Linked DNA regions of Homo sapiens. The protein of the gene in region 4 purifies or fractionates together with the protein of the main gene of each other region. This does not show direct contact. Each region holds a gene or a part of one and is shown on either strand. Other genes may lie near its edges. The genes, in order: SENP1, CCDC88A, EDEM2, BRINP3 and ATG2B.

Region 1 (3,520 bases), on a different chromosome or scaffold from region 4:
TTCGAGACCAGCCTGGCCAACATGGTGAAACCTCGTCTCTACTAAAATAAAAATAAAAAAAAGAAAAAATTAGCCAGGTGTGGTGGCGGGTGCCTGTAATCCCAGCTACTCAGGAGGCTGAGGCAGGAGAATCTCTTGAACCCGAGAGGTGGAGGTTGCAGTGAGCCGAGATTGTGCCACTGTACTCCAGCCTGGGCAACAGAGTGAGAGTCAAAAAACAAACAAACAACACTAAATGCCTACTCTGTGCCAAGCACTATTCTAGTTGCAGATCATTTTTTTTTTTTTAAGAGACAGAATCTCACTATGTTGCCCAGGCTGGTCTTGAACTCTTGGCTCAAGCGATTCTCCCACCTCAGCGTCCTAAAGCACTGGGATTACAGGAATGAGCCACCATGCCTGGCCTCTGATCCAGGTCTCTTAACTCCCAATTTGATGCTCTGTTTACTTGTTCTCTATATTTAATAGTTTTCTTTGGAAAAGTGTTCACTCTTCTTCTTTGTGTTTCTGTGATAGATCCTGCCTAGTTAGGAGTTTGGAGATAAGGAAGTTTGAGAAAAACAAGAGGCTCTAGGACAATTAATCATGTCTGTGGCTCTGCTCAGCATATCACTTGGGTTGTCAGCAGAGCCACATGGACCTAGAATTGGCCTGTCATCTTTGGAAGGAAGTTGTGTTGCTGATTCTCTGCTTTGGCTCATTGGCTTGTTAGCCATTTGATGTAGATTATTTTGTGTGTGGGGATTTTTAATAAATCTTTCAATCTGAGTCATTTGGGAAGAGCAATGTTCTAGCTTAATGTATTATTTTGAGAAGTGATGTCCTCTTTCACGTAATGTTGGTCTCATGCAAGTAGGGAGCTATGCCAAATGTAGTATCTCTGCTGAACTTTGGGTCACCTTTTTAACTAATATGTATCCATATGATTTTAACTAATATGTATGCATAAGGATTGTGTCTCCTTAATTCCTAGTTACAATTATTTTATGTCATTTAGATTCCTTTTACTTATTCCATACTTGTAAAGCACTCATATAAACAATTTAAATGATTGTTTTTATTGATGAAAATATTTTAATTTTCTCATAAGCCTCCTGCTCATTTGTCAAATTTTTCTTTTCCTACCCATAGTTCTACTTTCTTCCAGGCAGAGCTGTGGATCAAAGAATTGTAAGTTATTTTTGGTATCATTTTTCCTTCTCAATCAGTTCATTTTTAGTTAGAAGAAATCAAACAATTAGCTAATCATCCTGCTTATTTTTTGCCAATAAGAAGTACCTGTTTAGGCTGGGCGCGGTGGCTCACGCCTGTAATTCCAGCATTTTGGGAGGCTGAGGCAGGTGGATCATCTGAGGTCAGGAGTTCAAGACCAGCCTGGCCTTCATGGTGAAACCTCATCTCTACTAAAAATACAAAAATTGGCTGGGCATGGTGGCACGCGCCTGTAATCCTAGCTACTTGGAAGGCTGAGGCGGGAGGATTGCTTGAACCTGGGAGGTGGAGGTTGCAGTGAGCCGAGATCACGCCACTGCACTCCAGCCTGGGCAACAGAGTAAGACTCCATCTCAAAAAAAAAAAAAAAGAAGTGCCTGTTTATACTTTTAAGTTGTTGGGTTTTCAAAATATTGTTGGAGTTGGAACATTTCTATACTTATGTTTATTAAATCTATAACAATTGTTGAAGCTAAATTAAATTGGAAAAATAGAGTTAGCTATTATATAATAGGGAAAATAAATGATCCTATTTTGGCATTTGTAAAACTAATTTATTGAATAATTCATATTTCTGGACTTTGCAAAATCACTGAAAGCATTTAGTCTCACTTAAGGAACTTAAGTTATCCAAACCCCTCGGTCTCGGTAATTTTTTAAAAATCTATCAAAAATGAAGTATTTGAATTAAACTTCAGTGATATCTTGTATTCGTTTCTCCTTTAGGGTTCAATCCCATTTTTGGATTTCCAGACTGAAGTTTCGCTTTCACTATAATCTTAAAAGCATGTTAAGAAAAGAACTGTGTGTTTACAAATGTTAACAAGTCATCTGTTCACATTTAGCAGCACACTAATATTTTTAGTAATTTCAGTAAAAATAGGTCGGGTGCAATGGCTCACATCTGTAATCCTAGCACTTTGAGAGGCCAAGGTAGGGGGGTCGCTTGAGCCCAGGAGTTTGAGACTAGCCCGGGCACTGTAGTGAGACCCTATCTCTATAAAAAATAATAAGTAAAAATGGTAGAGTAATTTCAGTAACATTATGTGGTTTCACTCTATGTCTTAAAATAAGGATGATAAGTTAGTGTAAGGATTTTAGACTTTCTTTGTGAGGGTCCTGTATTTAATATTCAGTGTACATCAACAATATGTTTCATAATGAGAGTGGTCTACATTTGGTCACGTTCCTTTTCATTTTCTAGAACTAGTGTTTATGATTCTCGAGCACGAGAAAGATTGCGCCAGATTGAAGAACAGAAGGCATTGGCCTTACAGCTTCAAAACCAGGTAAAAAAGAAAATTGGAATAATATTACAAATAAATAGTACATCAAAGTAGAAACTATTTTGGAAAGTTACCCAGATTTGGGTAATTGCTGTTGTAATTCCAAGATCGTATGGTAGCATAGCATGTTATGATATGTCGTAAATGTTCTTGGTCTGTCCAGTCAGTGCTACTCATTGTACATAAGACAAATATAGATAGTCCCCTACTTGTGATGGTTCGACTAATGATTTTTTGACTTTACAAAAAAGCGAAAGCAATGGGCATTTAAGCACGCTCTTTGACTTATGACAGGTTTATTGGGACATAACCCTATCATAAATCAAGGAACATCCACAGATTTCTTTATCCCACTTACTCTGAAGTTTTATCTTTCAGAGATTGCAGGAGCGGGAACATTCAGTACATGATTCAGTAGAACTACATCTTCGTGTACCTCTTGAAAAGGAGATTCCTGTTACTGTTGTCCAAGAAACACAAAAAAAAGGTCATAAATTAACTGATAGTGAAGATGAATTTCCTGAAATTACAGAGGTAAGTTACATACACTTAATTTCTACACTACTAAGTATCATGTTTAGAAAGAATCCCTCGGATGAGTTTCAAACATAAAAGCAATAGTGGTCAGGCACGGTGGCTCACGCCTGTAATCCCATCACTTTGGGAGACTGAAGCGGGTGGATCACTTGAGGTTAGGAGTTCGAGACCAGCCTGGCCAACATGGTAAAACCCCATCTCTACCAAAAATACAAAAATTAGCTGGGTGTGGTGGCATGCACCTGTAATCCCAGCTACACAGGAGGCTGAGGCAGGAGAATTGCTTGAACCCGGGAGGCAGAGGTTGCAGTGAGCCGAGATCATGCCACCGTACTTCAGCCTGGGTGACAGAGCAAGACTCCATCTCACATACACACACACACAAAAAGCCATAGAACACGTGTTATTTAAATTTTCTTGTATATTTCAGCTTTCGCTTATTTTATATACCAATCTGGGCTTTATTTTTAAAATATTGAAAATTT
Region 2 (3,520 bases), on a different chromosome or scaffold from region 4:
GACAGATAAGTCTATTTTCTGTTTTGTTGACCCACTATATCCCCAGTGCTGGTTGCTGTCATTATTATTATCCTGTGCTATGCTATATCTACCTACTTATGGCTCCTCAAGTAAATCATGATAGTTCACAGCTTAGTTTTTTTGTTTGTTTGTTTGTTTTTGAGACAGGATCTCACTCTGTCACCCAGGCTGGACTGCAGTGGCACAATCGCAACCCACTGCAACCTCAAACTCCTAGGCTGAAGCAATCCTCCCACCTCAGCTTCCCAAGCAGCTGGGACTGCAGGCATGTGCTACTGCACCTGGCTAATTTTTTAAAATTTTTTTTATAGAGACCGGGTCTCACTTTTTTGCCCAGGCTGGTCTTGAATTCCTGGGTTCAAGTGATCCTCCCACCTCAGCTTCCCAAAGTGGCTGGCATTACAGGCATGAGCCACTGCGCCTGGCCGACAGCTTAGTTTTGTATGATCTCTGTTAGTGTCACCTCTATATAGCTGTATGATCTTTAGTAAGTTACTTAATTTGTAAGTGGGATAAAAAGTCACAGGATTGTTATGAGAATCAAATAGAATAATGTATGTACAATGCTTAACATATAGAAAGTGTCCAATAAATGTTAGCTCTTTATTGTTTTATTTATATTATTATCATTAGAATTATTTTCTTCAAGACCAGCGGTCCCCAACCTTTTTGGCAGCAAGGACTGGTTTCATGGAAGACGATTTTTACATGGAGCAAGGCTGAGGGGAGATGGTTTCAGGATGAAACTGTTCTACCTCAGATCATCAGCCATTAGATTCTTATGAGGAGAGTGCAACCTAGATCCCTCGCATCTACAGTTCACAATAGGGTTTGTGGTCCTGTGAGAATCTAATGCTGTTGTTGATCTGACAGGAGGCAGAGCTCAGGCAGTAATGCTTGCCCGCCCACCACTGATCTGCTGTGTGGCTTTCCTAACAAGCCATGGACCCAATCCATGGCCCAGGGGTTAGAGACTCCTGCTCTAGACTATCCTTCCCCTTTTCTTTGACTAACCAATTCCTGCTCTTCCTTTAATACCTTGTGAAGTCCCCAGGCAGAGTTGTTTTCTTCCTTATGATTCGGAAGTACCTTCACCTGCGTAGCTATTGCTTTGCAGTATTACTGTTTAGGGGCTAGATGTTTTGTCTCACATATTACTAGCACCTAACCTAGTACTTAGCATGTATCACTAGCACCTAGCATAGAAGTTGGCATGTCGTAAGTTGTAAGTAAATGTTGAAGGAATAAGTGAAGATAGCTGCAATTTTATTAATTTTCAAAATTTTGAGAATACCTTCTAGTTTTAGTACTGTAGAATTTAGTTTATTTTTTAGTTTGTCTTCTGTTTCTCCTTTTTGTTTGTTCTCTCTCTTTCCCCGTATTTGTTTTAATTACCTTTATTGGATATTTTTCCCACCGATGTTATATCTCCTTTGAGGCAAGGTGATAGGAGCAAGATTTCATGGTCCATGGTTTTTTATAGTATTAGAATATACAGTGCTTTCAGTTTGGTTTCCAATAACTTTCCTGTCCAATATGTTGAGTTTTTTTTTTTTTTTTTTTTTTTTGAGACGGAGTCTTACTCTGTCGTCTAGGCTGGAGTACAGTGGCGTGATCTCGGCTCACTGCAACCTCCTTCTCCCAGGTTCAACCAATTCTCCTGTCTCAGCCTCCTGAGTAGTTGGGATTACAAGGTGCCCACCACCGTGCCTGGTGAAGTTTTGTGTTTTTAGTAGAGACGGGATTTCACCATTTTGGCCAGGCTGGTTTCGAACTCCTGACCTCAAGTGATCTGTCCACCTGAGCCTCCCAAAATCTCATGCTGGGATTACAGGCATGAGCCACCGTGCCTGGGCCATGTTGAGATTTTTTTGTCCACAGCTTTGTATTGGACTGTCTTCAAGAAAAGTCCATTGTGATTGCCTCATTCTCAATATGATTCATATGTAGTTAAACTACAGAAATGATGAGAACCTAGAGAAGAACAGGTGAACTAGTTGTTATACCTGAGAGTATTTTTAAATTTTTTAACTGAAAATTTTCTCTTAATATATATTATGGGAGACTAGTTCTCACAGGATAAATGGAAAGGAAGACCAGTTCTTTCAAAAGGACACCAGCTGACTTTCTTTTAGGATCCATGAAACAGTTTGATACCATTCTAGGCATTAAGTTTTCAATATTCAGAAATAGTATTTGAGATTATACTTGGTACTGGGACATCTGTATAATACTTAATTTATTAATTAGTAAACTGGCTGCTTTTGGAGAGTCAGAGTGGTGGGAGGGCAAAAACAAAAACATGGGCTTGAAAGTTTAAATCCTGAATCAATCATTTAATATTTAGCTAGTTATTGAAACTGGAAAATTACTTTAAATGTTCTCTTTATTCCTGATTCTATTTTTATGCCTTCTTAGATCTATTTTACTAGTTTAATAATTTTTTTTTTTTTTTGAGACAAGGCCTCTCTCTCTTGCCGAGACTGGAATGCAGTGGCGAGATCTTGGTTCACTGCAACCTCTGCCTCCTGGGCTCAAACGATCCTCTCACCTCAGCCTCCTGAGTAGCTAGGACTACTACCATGCCCAGCTAATTTTTCTTTTCTTTTTTTTGTTTTTTGTTTTTTGTAAAGGCAGAGTTTTGCTGTGTTGCCCATTCTGGTTCCAATCTCCTGGGTTCAAGCTATCCACCACCTCAGCCTCCCAAAGTGCAGAGATTAGAGGCGTGAGCCAGTGTGCCTGGCCTACTTTAATAATTAATAAAAATAGGTGGATAAAACCCATCAACTTCACTCTGAGTGAGAGGAGATCTGCCCCTAACATTTGTAAGATCCAGGATAAGCATCCATTTACCACAATAGGCCTAAATATTTAAAGCTTATAAACCAGGCCAACAAATCATTATCTATATTCTAGTCTTTTCTCTTGATAAATATACCTTCATAATGACTTGAAAGTTTCAAATTTAAAATCTGTGGAATTTAGAATTCATAAATTCACAGTTTTGCAGCAGAGTGTGGTTAAGCCCAACCTCCTCCCGTCATCTCTGGCTCTTTCTAGCACCACAAAGAGGTCTCCTGTACATGCTGTGAACACCTTGCATGCACGCACAAGGTCTAAGCTCTTGTACTCCCATCCCCAAACAAGTACTCCTTGGCCCAAGGGTGTACACAAGTGTAGCACAGTCTTTTCTAAGGACAGACCTAGGAAAGAGGCCTGTGTGGGCCTTCAAATTGAGTTAGAAGTGCTTGGGCAAGAAATTGCAAAGTTCTGGGCACCTGGAGTGTCATTTAAAAGTGGGGAGGTAGGCCAGACTTGGGGGCTCACACCTGTAATCCCAGCACTTTGGGAGGCTGAGGCGGGTGGATCACTTGAGGTCAGGAGTTCAAGATCAGCCTGGCCAATATGGTGAAACCCCGTCTCTAATAAAAATACAAAAATTAGCAGGGCATGTTGGCGGGCCCCTGTAATCCCAGCTACTCGGGAGGCTGAGGCAGGA
Region 3 (3,520 bases), on a different chromosome or scaffold from region 4:
TGCTGGGATTACAGATGTGAGCCACTGCGACTGGCCCCATATGCTCTTTCAAATCAGGAAATGAGTGAGAAGGAAAAGGCCAAGGTTGACTCCTTTTGAGCTCCTGCCATCAGGATTTCAGAAGTGTAGGCAAGCTTCCTAAGTCCATGGGTCAGATAAATTATGCTTACGTGTATGGAATGTTAGAACTTTGGGGCGGACCTTAGGAATTACCTAGTCTCTTCCACCTCCCCATTTGCAGCTCAGAATCAAGCAAAGGACTATATTTGAGACACTCTCATAGGTTCCTTTCTAGCCCTAATGTCATTTGATTCACTTCAGGGAAGCTGAAAATTGTGAGGAGGGAAAGAAAAAGAGGGACAAAGGAAGGAAGCTTAGTCAGCACACATAGTCATCCCCCACCCCAAAACAGGCTATGAGCCCATTGTCTTAGACACTTCCCACTTTCCCACCTGAATTGCCTTTTAGCCATGGGACAGGCCTTCTGGTTATCCTGCCTTCCTCTACCCCATTTCCTTCCTCTTCTAACTCAAGTGATTATCGTAGGAGGTGTAGAGGGGACCAGGAGAGGGAATAAAGAGCAAATTCATCAACTTTTGACTCCTTAGAGGCCACTGTTATTGATGTTTCTCATGCATTTGTTCTCATGGCATGTTTTTAAAACAGGAAACTTGGTTGGGCATGGTGGCTCACGCCTGTAATCCCAGCACTTTGGGAGGCCAAGGCAGGTGGATCACCTGAAGTCAGGAGTTTGAGACCAGCCTGGCCAACATGGTGAAACCCCATCTCTACTAAAAATACAAAATTAGCTGGGCATGGTGGCGTGCACCTGTAATCTCAGCTACTGGGGAGGCTGAGACAGTAGAATCGCTTGAACCCGGGAGGTAGAAGTTGCAGTGAGCTGAGATCACGCCATTGCACTCCAGCCTGGGCAAAAAAGAGCAAAACTCCATCTCAAAAAAATAAATAAGTAAATTTTAAAAATAAGAAGCTCTGAGAAGGTATCGTATCTGGTGTTACCAACAGGTAAAGATTAGGGTTTGGAACTAAATGTAAGACATAGGCTTGCACAATCTTAGGGTTAGAGGGAACCTGAGAGGTGTTCTAATTGGAATTTTCCTAATATGGCCCTGTCAAGTGGTTATCTAGTTTTTGCTTAGTTACCACGAGTGACAAGGAGCTTGCTACTTAACAGAGGCAACCTGTTCCATTTGGGACAGGCTGGCAGGAAGGCATTCATGGAAAGTAAGACACTACTGGCCAGATGCAGTGGCTTATGCCTGTAATCCCAGCACTCTGGAAGCCTGAGGCAGGAGGATCATTTAAGCCCAGGGGTTCAAGATCAGCCTGGGCAACATAGCAAGACCTTGTCTCTATAAGAAATATAAATAAATTAGCCAAGAGTGGTGTTGCATGCCTGTAGTCCCATCCCAGCTACCTGGGAGGATCACTTGAGCCCAGGTGGTCGTAGCTGCAGTGAGCCATGATGGCGCCACTGCAATCCAGCCTGGGCAATGGAGTGAGACCCTGTCTCCAAAAAAAAAAAACATAAGGCACCGCTGTCAGGAATCCAGGAGTGCGTTAATCCAGTCATCCCTCCTACCCCAAAACAATGGCAAATAGGAGATAAGGACTACTCTTTCACTAAATTGGCCAGAGCCCTGTACTTTCGTATATGTCTCTCTGATCAGCAGTGTTGGAGCACAGAGCCTAGCCTAAAGGCCTCTGCAGGCTTTTACCTTCCTCTAAGTCCAAATCTGAACTTTGGGCTGTCTCCTTCCTCTAGAGCAGGGATTCCCCAACCCCCAGGCCGTGGACCGGTACAAGTCCATGGCCTGTTAGAAACCAGGCCACACAGCAGGAGGTGAGCTGCGTGTGAGCAAGCAAAGCTTCATCTATATTTATAGCTGCTCCTCATCGCTCACATTGCTGCCTGAGCTCCGCCTCTTGTCTTATCCGTGGTGGCATTAGACGTTCATAGGAGCACAAACCCTATTGTGAACTGCATATGTGAGGGATCTAGGTTGTGTGCTCCTTAGGAGAAGCTGATGCCTGATGATCTGTCACTGTCATCCATCAACCCCAGATAGGGCTGTCTAGTTGCAGGAAAACAAACTCAGGGCTCCCACTGACTCTACATTATGGTGGATTGTATAATTATTTCATTATATATTACAATGTAATAATAATATAAATAAAGTGCACAATAAATGTAATGCACATGAATTATCCCAAAACCATCTCCTACAAGCCCAGTTCATGGAAAAATTGTCTTCCATGAAACTGGTCCCTGGTGCCAAAACGGTTGGGGACCACTGCTCGACAGAGTTGGTCAGATGCACAGGAAAGTAAAGCAATAACTAACATGCTTAGGAGGCCCACATGTGAGGAGAGAAGCGTGATGGCTGGTCATGAGGGCACTGGCCCACCAGCTGCTAGAAGCAGAAGAGGGCTGGGTGTGGTGGCTCACGCCTGTAATCCCAGCACTTTGGGAGGCCAAGGCGGTGGATCAACTGAGGTCAGGAGTTCGAGACCAGCCTGACCAATATGGCGAAACCCTGTCTCTACTAAAAATACAAAAATTAGCCGGGCACGGTGGCATGTGCCTGTAGTCCCAGCTACTCAGGAGGCTGAGACAGGAGAATTGCTTGAACCTGGGAGGCAGAGGTTGCAGTGAGCCAAGATCATGCCATTGCACTCTAGCCTGGGTAACACAGCAAAACTCCCTCTCAAAAAAAAAAAAAAAAAAAAAAGAAGAAGCCGAAAAAAGAAGCAGAAGAGGAGGCCTCCCATGAGGGCACTGTCTTTTCTGCCTTTGAACACACAGAATGTGTTCATCTAGTAATGAATGTACCCTAGTCTGTGCCTTAGAATATGAGCAATTAGATTAGCAATTGTCTAGAGGCCTGTGAGGAGAGGGGAGGAGGAAGTAAGAGAGAACTGGGGAGATAGGCAGAGACCTTTTCTCTAAAATAAGAACTAGAGGCTGGGTGCAGTGACTCACGCCTGTTATCTCAACACTTCAGGAAGCCAAGACTGGCGGATGACTTGAGGTCAGGAGTTTGAGACCAGCCTGGCCAACATGGCGAAACCCTGTCTCCACTAAAAATACAAAAATTAGTCAGGGCTGGTGGCGCATGCCTGTAATTCCAGCTACTTGGGAGGTTGAGGCATGAGAATCCCTTGAACCCAGGAGGCAGAGTTGCAGTGAGCGGAGATCGCACCATGGCACTCCAGCCTGGGTGACAGAGTGAGACTCTGTCACAAAAAAGTAATTAACGGAATAAAATAAGAACCAGAGTTTGCAGCAATAAGCCAAAAGGGACAGAAGCACTGATCAAGCCCAGGAGGAAACAGGACAGGAGAAGGTCAGGGGGAGATGATGGTATAGAAAGGAGACAGGGGTTCTTCTGTCTCTTAGAAAAGATGGATGAAGTAGAAAAACATACTGAGCTGAGGCCACCCTTGAAGTCAACTCTACAACAGTTCTTCAGGTATTTGAAAGCAATAAACACATTTT
Region 4 (3,374 bases):
AATCCATGCATTTTATTCAATATTCAATAAATATTAAAGGCTTGTTATCTCCTGGCATTCTACTGGGCACAGGTTATGTAGCTATGAAAGAAAACATACAAGATTTTGGCAAATGGGTATTATATGTAATGAGAAAAACAATATAAATAAGTAAATACACAGTAATACAAAATCTTAAGCAGAAAAATGCACTATGAAAAACAGTAAGTAGATATTTAAAGGATTGAGTACAGCATATATATTTTGCAGGAAATCCAAAATGTATTAAATGTGAACACCAAAAAAGCATAAGAATACCAAAAATGGAATTGTTGTGTATCTACTGTGAAACAGACACTTTGCAATATTCTAAGTACATGCATAGAGTTTGACCTTAATTTATTTCTCACAAAATCTCAACATGGACGATATTACTATTCCCATTTTTCATATGAGAGAACTGTGTGTTATAGAGGCTGTGCAACTTTTCCCATGATCATACATGCAGTATGAGAAAGCAACAAACTGAAAACAAGGAATTGTGTTATTACAAGGCCATTGCTCTTCCCTCATTATTTTACTGGTTTTAAGACACCAAAATAGTTTAAATAATGCGAGAAAATCAGAAAAGTGAGATTTGAAAAAGGAATCATGATTAACCTGATGAGAAAAAAAATGTTAATGACTCAAATCAAACACATTAAACTAACACACTTACCCCTTATTGAAGGAGCTTGTTGATTTTAATGAGATATTTTCAACTATTTTCTTGAGCAGCCTGTAAGAATAAACATGTTTTAATATTTCTTTGAGTGGGTACTTGTTCTTTCAATGTTGATGACAACCCTAGCATCTAAATACACTGATTGACAATTTAGAGCTGTTTTTCTTTCATTTTTCTTTTACTTTCTATTCATCCTTCCTGCAACACTAGTGGTTTATAAAGCTAAGAGTAAATGAATGAACAATCACCATGTATATGCTCTAATTCTCCTACAGATATTTTATGATAAAATCACTTACCTTTCTTCTTCTTATTTCAAAACAATAATGACCCATTTTTATTTACAATGGTCTTCCATGTGCACTAATGAGATAGCATGCAATGTCTTTAGAAGATATCACATATTTAGAAATGTATTGCAGTTCAGACCAAGTATAGCTCTAATCTTGTTTTGTGCAGTGATAAATGGAATATACATACACACGTCTGTGTGTGTGTGTGTGTGTGTGTGTGTGTGTATTATATAGTCTAATTATGAGCTCTATGAATCTTTTATTTCATTTAAATTACTGGCTGGAGATGACCTGAAGAAATGATAGCAAAGATTTCTGAGCTACGGTTTACTGCAGTACACAGAATATCTTTGTATTTATGTAGATTCGTTCTGTTTTGTATTTCTAGAACCTCAACCTACTGGCTTACTCGCATCCAGTCTTTTCTCTACTGCAATGAGAACGGCCTCCTAGGCAGCTTTTCAGAAGAGACGCACTCGTGCACGTGTCCGAATGACCAGGTGGTCTGCACCGCGTTCCTGCCCTGCACAGTGGGAGACGCCTCTGCCTGCCTGACATGCGCACCAGACAACCGCACCCGCTGCGGCACCTGCAACACCGGCTACATGCTCAGCCAGGGGCTCTGCAAGCCTGAAGTCGCCGAGTCCACCGATCACTATATTGGCTTTGAAACTGACCTGCAAGATCTCGAGATGAAATATCTGCTGCAGAAAACGGACAGACGAATAGAAGTCCATGCCATTTTTATCAGCAATGACATGCGCCTCAATAGCTGGTTTGATCCCTCCTGGCGTAAGCGGATGCTCCTCACCTTGAAGAGCAATAAGTACAAGTCAAGTCTGGTCCATATGATTTTGGGTCTCTCTTTACAGATTTGCTTAACTAAAAACAGCACCTTGGAGCCAGTGTTGGCTGTTTATGTCAATCCCTTCGGAGGCAGCCACTCTGAGAGCTGGTTTATGCCTGTGAATGAAAACAGCTTTCCAGACTGGGAGCGGACTAAGTTGGACCTACCCCTGCAGTGTTATAACTGGACATTAACTCTGGGGAACAAATGGAAGACATTTTTTGAGACAGTACACATCTACCTGAGAAGTCGCATCAAGTCCAATGGTCCCAATGGTAATGAGAGCATTTACTATGAACCTCTGGAGTTTATTGACCCTTCCCGGAACCTGGGCTATATGAAAATCAATAACATTCAAGTGTTTGGCTACAGCATGCACTTTGACCCTGAAGCAATTCGGGACCTGATTTTGCAGCTGGACTACCCCTATACTCAGGGATCCCAGGATTCAGCACTTTTGCAACTACTAGAGATCAGAGACCGTGTAAATAAACTCTCCCCACCTGGTCAGCGTCGTCTAGATCTTTTCTCTTGCTTGCTTCGTCATAGACTCAAGCTGTCTACTAGTGAGGTGGTGAGGATCCAATCTGCTCTGCAGGCGTTTAATGCCAAATTGCCAAACACAATGGATTATGACACGACCAAATTATGTAGTTAACCATAAATGTCAAGCACAACCCAAAATCTTGAAGGAGTTTTTACAGTGCTTTTGTGGAACAGTTTATGTTTGGAAGAGTAAATTTAAATTGTCTTTTCAATATCTGTCTTATATCAGTCAATAACATTGGATGGCAATTTACACACATGAACTTGCTGACAATGAATATATTATACAGCAGTTTTGGTTTATGAATGACATAAATACTGACACCAGTCTAGAAGACATTCTACTTTTTACAATAAATTTCATTTGTAATTTTATATGTTCCGTGGCAATGCTTTTGTGCATTACATCCTCTAGAGGGAACATAAAAAGATACCAATAAAATTTTGTAGCTGAACAGTTATTAAAAAGAAATGCTGTGGGATTCCTTTTTTCCATGAAATGAGTTCTATTTTGATACAGTTTGTTAGAACCTGGGGAAAATTCACCAAGAATTTTTAATGGAAATATTTGAAGGTCTCTTTCAATTATTTTTATGGAAAACCCAAGTAGGTAGGATACTTACTATTCAGTTGTTTTTTATGGTTAACAGAACAACGACAGTAGTATGTTTATTACCTGTACTTGGGAAACCAATACTAGAGACACAATTGTAATTAAAGTACTCAGATAAACTAATTCTCAAACATCAGAATATTTCAGCAAACATACAGAAAAATCAGTGTGATAATAAAGCATAGCATGGAGAAAGCAAACCTTTAATTTCCTTAGCAACTTGCTTGCTTTCTCCTTCCCTTTCTACATTCTAGGAACCAATAATCAGCACACTCGGCACAATTATTTTAATTTCAAATCCTGAAAACCTAGTTATTCCAGCACTTTACCAGTGTCAATAAAACAACATTTCTAGAGTTCACAAGTTGTAAG
Region 5 (3,520 bases), on a different chromosome or scaffold from region 4:
TCTTTGAAAAGTGGTTGCTTTCTTACTCATTATTAAAGTGCTATCTTTATTTTGAAAAGACAGATTAAGTATGTTTTGTTTTTTGGAAAATATCTGCTAGGTAGCATGTACTACTGATAGTCATTGTCATAAATACATAAATAGTCAGTGGAGAATTCTTCTCTGTGTAAAAGGAAAATGCTTATCTTTAAATCCAACCCTTAAACACTTGGCCATAGGAGAAACCAGGAAACCAGAAGGTAATTGCCATTCACTTTCTCTTTACAAAGATTCTACTGTTTAAAGGTCTGGTTTTATTCTATAGAATGTATGTGGAAATGTTTCAGTGTGCAGAAGTGGAAGGAACATCCAACTGAGGGCACCACTCTTAATCCTTCTCTGTTGTGGAACTACTAGTTTTCTCTTTGTACCAGTTTGATATGTGGCTTGAAGGAAGGTGCCAGTGCCCATTTGTATATTAAATATAAGTACAACTTTTCAATCTAAATTTGGAAAATTTAATATAGAATGTCTCATTTTCCTCTCACATCCTTATGAATCATCTGATAATACTTTAGGATATATGCATCCAGTTTTGGAGATTACTACCTTAAACGTGGCATGAAGTGGAGGGAGAAATAGAGGCAAGGGGTTTGGGATTGTTCCATCATTGGAATAGACTGTCTAAAAATTTCATAAACTCCTTGTCCCTAGAAGTGGTTGAAATGGCAAAATGTTGAAAGGAGGAAATTCTATTTGGGGTGGGAAGTTGGATTTAATGACTCATTCCTTTTTAACTCTATGACTGTGCCTTTATTTTTGATTTTTAAATGGAATTTCTTTCATTAATCGATTCAGTACATTTATTGAGCTCTTAGCATGTGCCACTGTGAGGGGCTGGGGGATATAGCAGTGAACTAAACAAAGACCCTTTTCTTACAGGAGCTCAAGAAGATACACATTAACAATTTATTACACTGAGGCCTTTTATTTTATTTTTTTTTTGAGACAGGGTCTCACTCTGTCACCCAGACTGGAGTGCAGTGGCGTGATCTAGGCTTACTGCAGCCTCAACCTGCTAGGCTCAAGCGATCCTCCTACCTCTCCTCCCCTCCCTGCAGTAGCTGGGACTACAGGTGCATGCCACCACACCTGGCTACTTTTTGTATTTTTTGTAGAGACGGGATTTCGCCATGTTGCCCAGGCTGGTCTTGAACTCCTGGACTCAAGCAGTCTGCCCATGTCGGCCTCCCAAAGTGCTGGGATTACAGACGTGAGCCACCACGCCTGGCCACTGAGGCCTTTTAACTTCAGTTTAAGAATGTTTCGATTGCTGCTTATATTCTCTTGGTGTTTAATAAAATTATCTTCAGTTCAAGAAACATTGATTACTGATTATTTGTCAAAGGTCACCTGGAGACTAGAGTGTTACCTTCACTTTTTCTGTTTATATGCGTGAAACTCATTGATGATAATTGAAAGCAAAATACCCTTAAACAGAAGAATAAAAAGCTCTAAAGGACTCTATGGTGGGGCATTTATTTGCTGAGTAGTTCAGGTGTCTCCACTTTTAGTTTAAGAGTTATTTTCTCGTTAGCATAGTGGTGACTAAAAAAAAAAAAATACTTGATAGGACTGGTGAGGAAACACTTCATAGGACTGGTGTGGAAAATGTTGCTTGAGCCAAGTAGGTTGAGAATTTTTACTACTCATATACTATAGTAGCCTTGGATTTTCCCAGAATGACTGAATTTCAAGGTACCTTATGCTACAAGATATATGGGATTTTGCTCAAGTGGTTATAAGACTGGGCATAAATATAACCTATTTAAACATCTTATACTTAGGGAAATTATTTTGTAGCTTAGTGGTGCAATGTAAATTCTGGAACTGTTGACTCTCCAAAACTGTTAACATTTATCAGTTTTTTTCTTTTTTTCCTTTTCTTTCTTTAGAGACAGTCTCTGTTACCTAGGCTGGAGTACAGTGGTGTGATCAGCTCACTGCAGCCTCAAACTCATGGGTTCAAGCGATCCTCCAATCCAGCCTCCTGAGTAGGTGGGGACTACTGATGTACACCACCACACCCAGTTAATTTCTTTTAATTTTTGTAGAGACCGGATTTCACTATGTTGCCCAGGCTGATCTTGACCTCCTGGGCTCAAGTGATCCTCCCACCTCAGCCCCCCCCAGTTTCTGGAATTACAGGCATGAGCCACCGTACCAGGCCCCTTTAATATTACTCTTCACTGCTGTAATAAACCTTTTTGTATTTAGAGGTTTAACTTTATTTCAACTTCTCTGCCACAAAATTGGGACGAAAACTTGGTGTTTACTGAGAAGAGAGTTCCATCAAGTCCCGTTTCTCTCATAGTTGTCTAAGGTTGACAGTTTGCAGAAGCTAAGTCATTGCCTCCATATGTTTTAAACACTGTTAGGTTTTTAATAGTTCATTTTTACTATACAATTAATATATGCTCATTACAAAAAATTCAAACAGTAAAGAAATATATGAGGTATGAAGTAATAGAGCTTAATCCCATCTCTTCCAGAGATAACAATATGGTACAAAAGTTTCAAACTTTTAGTTGTGGAAATACTTAATACATGAAGCAAGCAGTTCTACTTACCTTTTGAAGTCTTTTATGATGGGCCATTTTTTTAATGGAATGTGTCAAACATTCTTAAAAAAAAAAAACTATGAAAAAATCTGAAAAACACAAGTAGAGGGAAGAACCTTGATGACCGTAACTTGTGGTACCTAGTTGATGGTGAAATAGGAAATTCTAGAGAAGGAGCAGGTTTTCTCCACTGTCTGGAGTTGGGAGTGGGAGGAGGAGATTGAGATTGGACAGAGAATAAGTTTTACTATATTGATTTTTGAGGGGGCTTTAGAATGTGGGGGCTTTAGATCCAGGTAGAGAAGCTCAGGAGGCACTGGGAATATACGTATAGGAAGATTGCAGTTGTAAAGATATGGGAGTTATCAGAGTATCAATAGTGAATAACAGTGGCAGGAGATGGAACTGCACAAAGTGCGTGGGTAGTAAGTAGATCAGCTTGAGAAACAAAAAAGGCCGAAGATGAAACTTAGATGAACTCCAACATTTTAAATTGTAAAGGATCAGAAAAAAGATTGAGAGAGTGAAGTGTTACAGAAGTCAAGGGAAGTTAGAATTTCAAAAAAGGTGAGTGGTCCTAGGAACTAGGTAGAGATGAGAATTCAATAAAGATGAGGACTAAATATTGTTTATTGCATTTGTCATTTTAATGGTGGTTACAAGCAGTTTCAGAGGAGCTGAGGGTTAGAAGGTCGCTTGTAGTTTGCAGTTTGAGCAGATAACTACCTTGACAGAGAAAATGGGGTTGATGGCTAGGGGGAACATGGAGCAAGGTTAGGGGTTTTAGTTTACTTTTGAAAATAATAATGATCATTTATTAAATACCTTCCATCTCTATATACTGTACTGTGTGGGTGCTTTTACATACATTATTTTACTCTAAATTGGGTACTAACTTTCTGTTTACTGTGAGGTTAAAT

The links.
Region 1: the proteins of BRINP3 (region 4) and SENP1 purify together in Homo sapiens (affinity purification with mass spectrometry; one large-scale study listed by BioGRID and IntAct). This does not show direct contact.
Region 2: the proteins of BRINP3 (region 4) and CCDC88A purify together in Homo sapiens (affinity purification with mass spectrometry; one large-scale study listed by BioGRID and IntAct). This does not show direct contact.
Region 3: the proteins of BRINP3 (region 4) and EDEM2 purify together in Homo sapiens (affinity purification with mass spectrometry; 2 studies listed by BioGRID and IntAct, with this or other methods). This does not show direct contact.
Region 5: the proteins of BRINP3 (region 4) and ATG2B purify together in Homo sapiens (affinity purification with mass spectrometry; 2 studies listed by BioGRID and IntAct, with this or other methods). This does not show direct contact.

What each region holds. Positions count from the first base shown.
Region 1 is NC_000012.12:48,064,577-48,068,096, reverse strand, and holds part of SENP1 (sentrin-specific protease 1), read left to right. Parts: intron 1-1,131; coding exon 1,132-1,170; intron 1,171-2,416; coding exon 2,417-2,501; intron 2,502-2,876; coding exon 2,877-3,032; intron 3,033-3,520. UniProt on the Homo sapiens protein: Protease that catalyzes two essential functions in the SUMO pathway.
Region 2 is NC_000002.12:55,409,849-55,413,368, reverse strand, and holds part of CCDC88A (girdin), read left to right. Parts: intron 1-3,520. UniProt on the Homo sapiens protein: Bifunctional modulator of guanine nucleotide-binding proteins (G proteins). Acts as a non-receptor guanine nucleotide exchange factor which binds to and activates guanine nucleotide-binding protein G(i) alpha subunits.
Region 3 is NC_000020.11:35,119,827-35,123,346, reverse strand, and holds part of EDEM2 (ER degradation-enhancing alpha-mannosidase-like protein 2 isoform 1 precursor), read left to right. Parts: intron 1-3,520. UniProt on the Homo sapiens protein: Involved in the endoplasmic reticulum-associated degradation (ERAD) pathway that targets misfolded glycoproteins for degradation in an N-glycan-dependent manner.
Region 4 is NC_000001.11:190,097,145-190,100,518, reverse strand, and holds the end of BRINP3 (BMP/retinoic acid-inducible neural-specific protein 3 isoform 1 precursor), read left to right. Parts: intron 1-1,384; coding exon 1,385-2,501; 3' UTR 2,502-2,861; downstream 2,862-3,374. UniProt on the Homo sapiens protein: Inhibits neuronal cell proliferation by negative regulation of the cell cycle transition. Promotes pituitary gonadotrope cell proliferation, migration and invasion, when overexpressed. May play a role in cell pituitary tumor development.
Region 5 is NC_000014.9:96,356,842-96,360,361, reverse strand, and holds part of ATG2B (autophagy-related protein 2 homolog B), read left to right. Parts: intron 1-3,520. UniProt on the Homo sapiens protein: Lipid transfer protein required for both autophagosome formation and regulation of lipid droplet morphology and dispersion.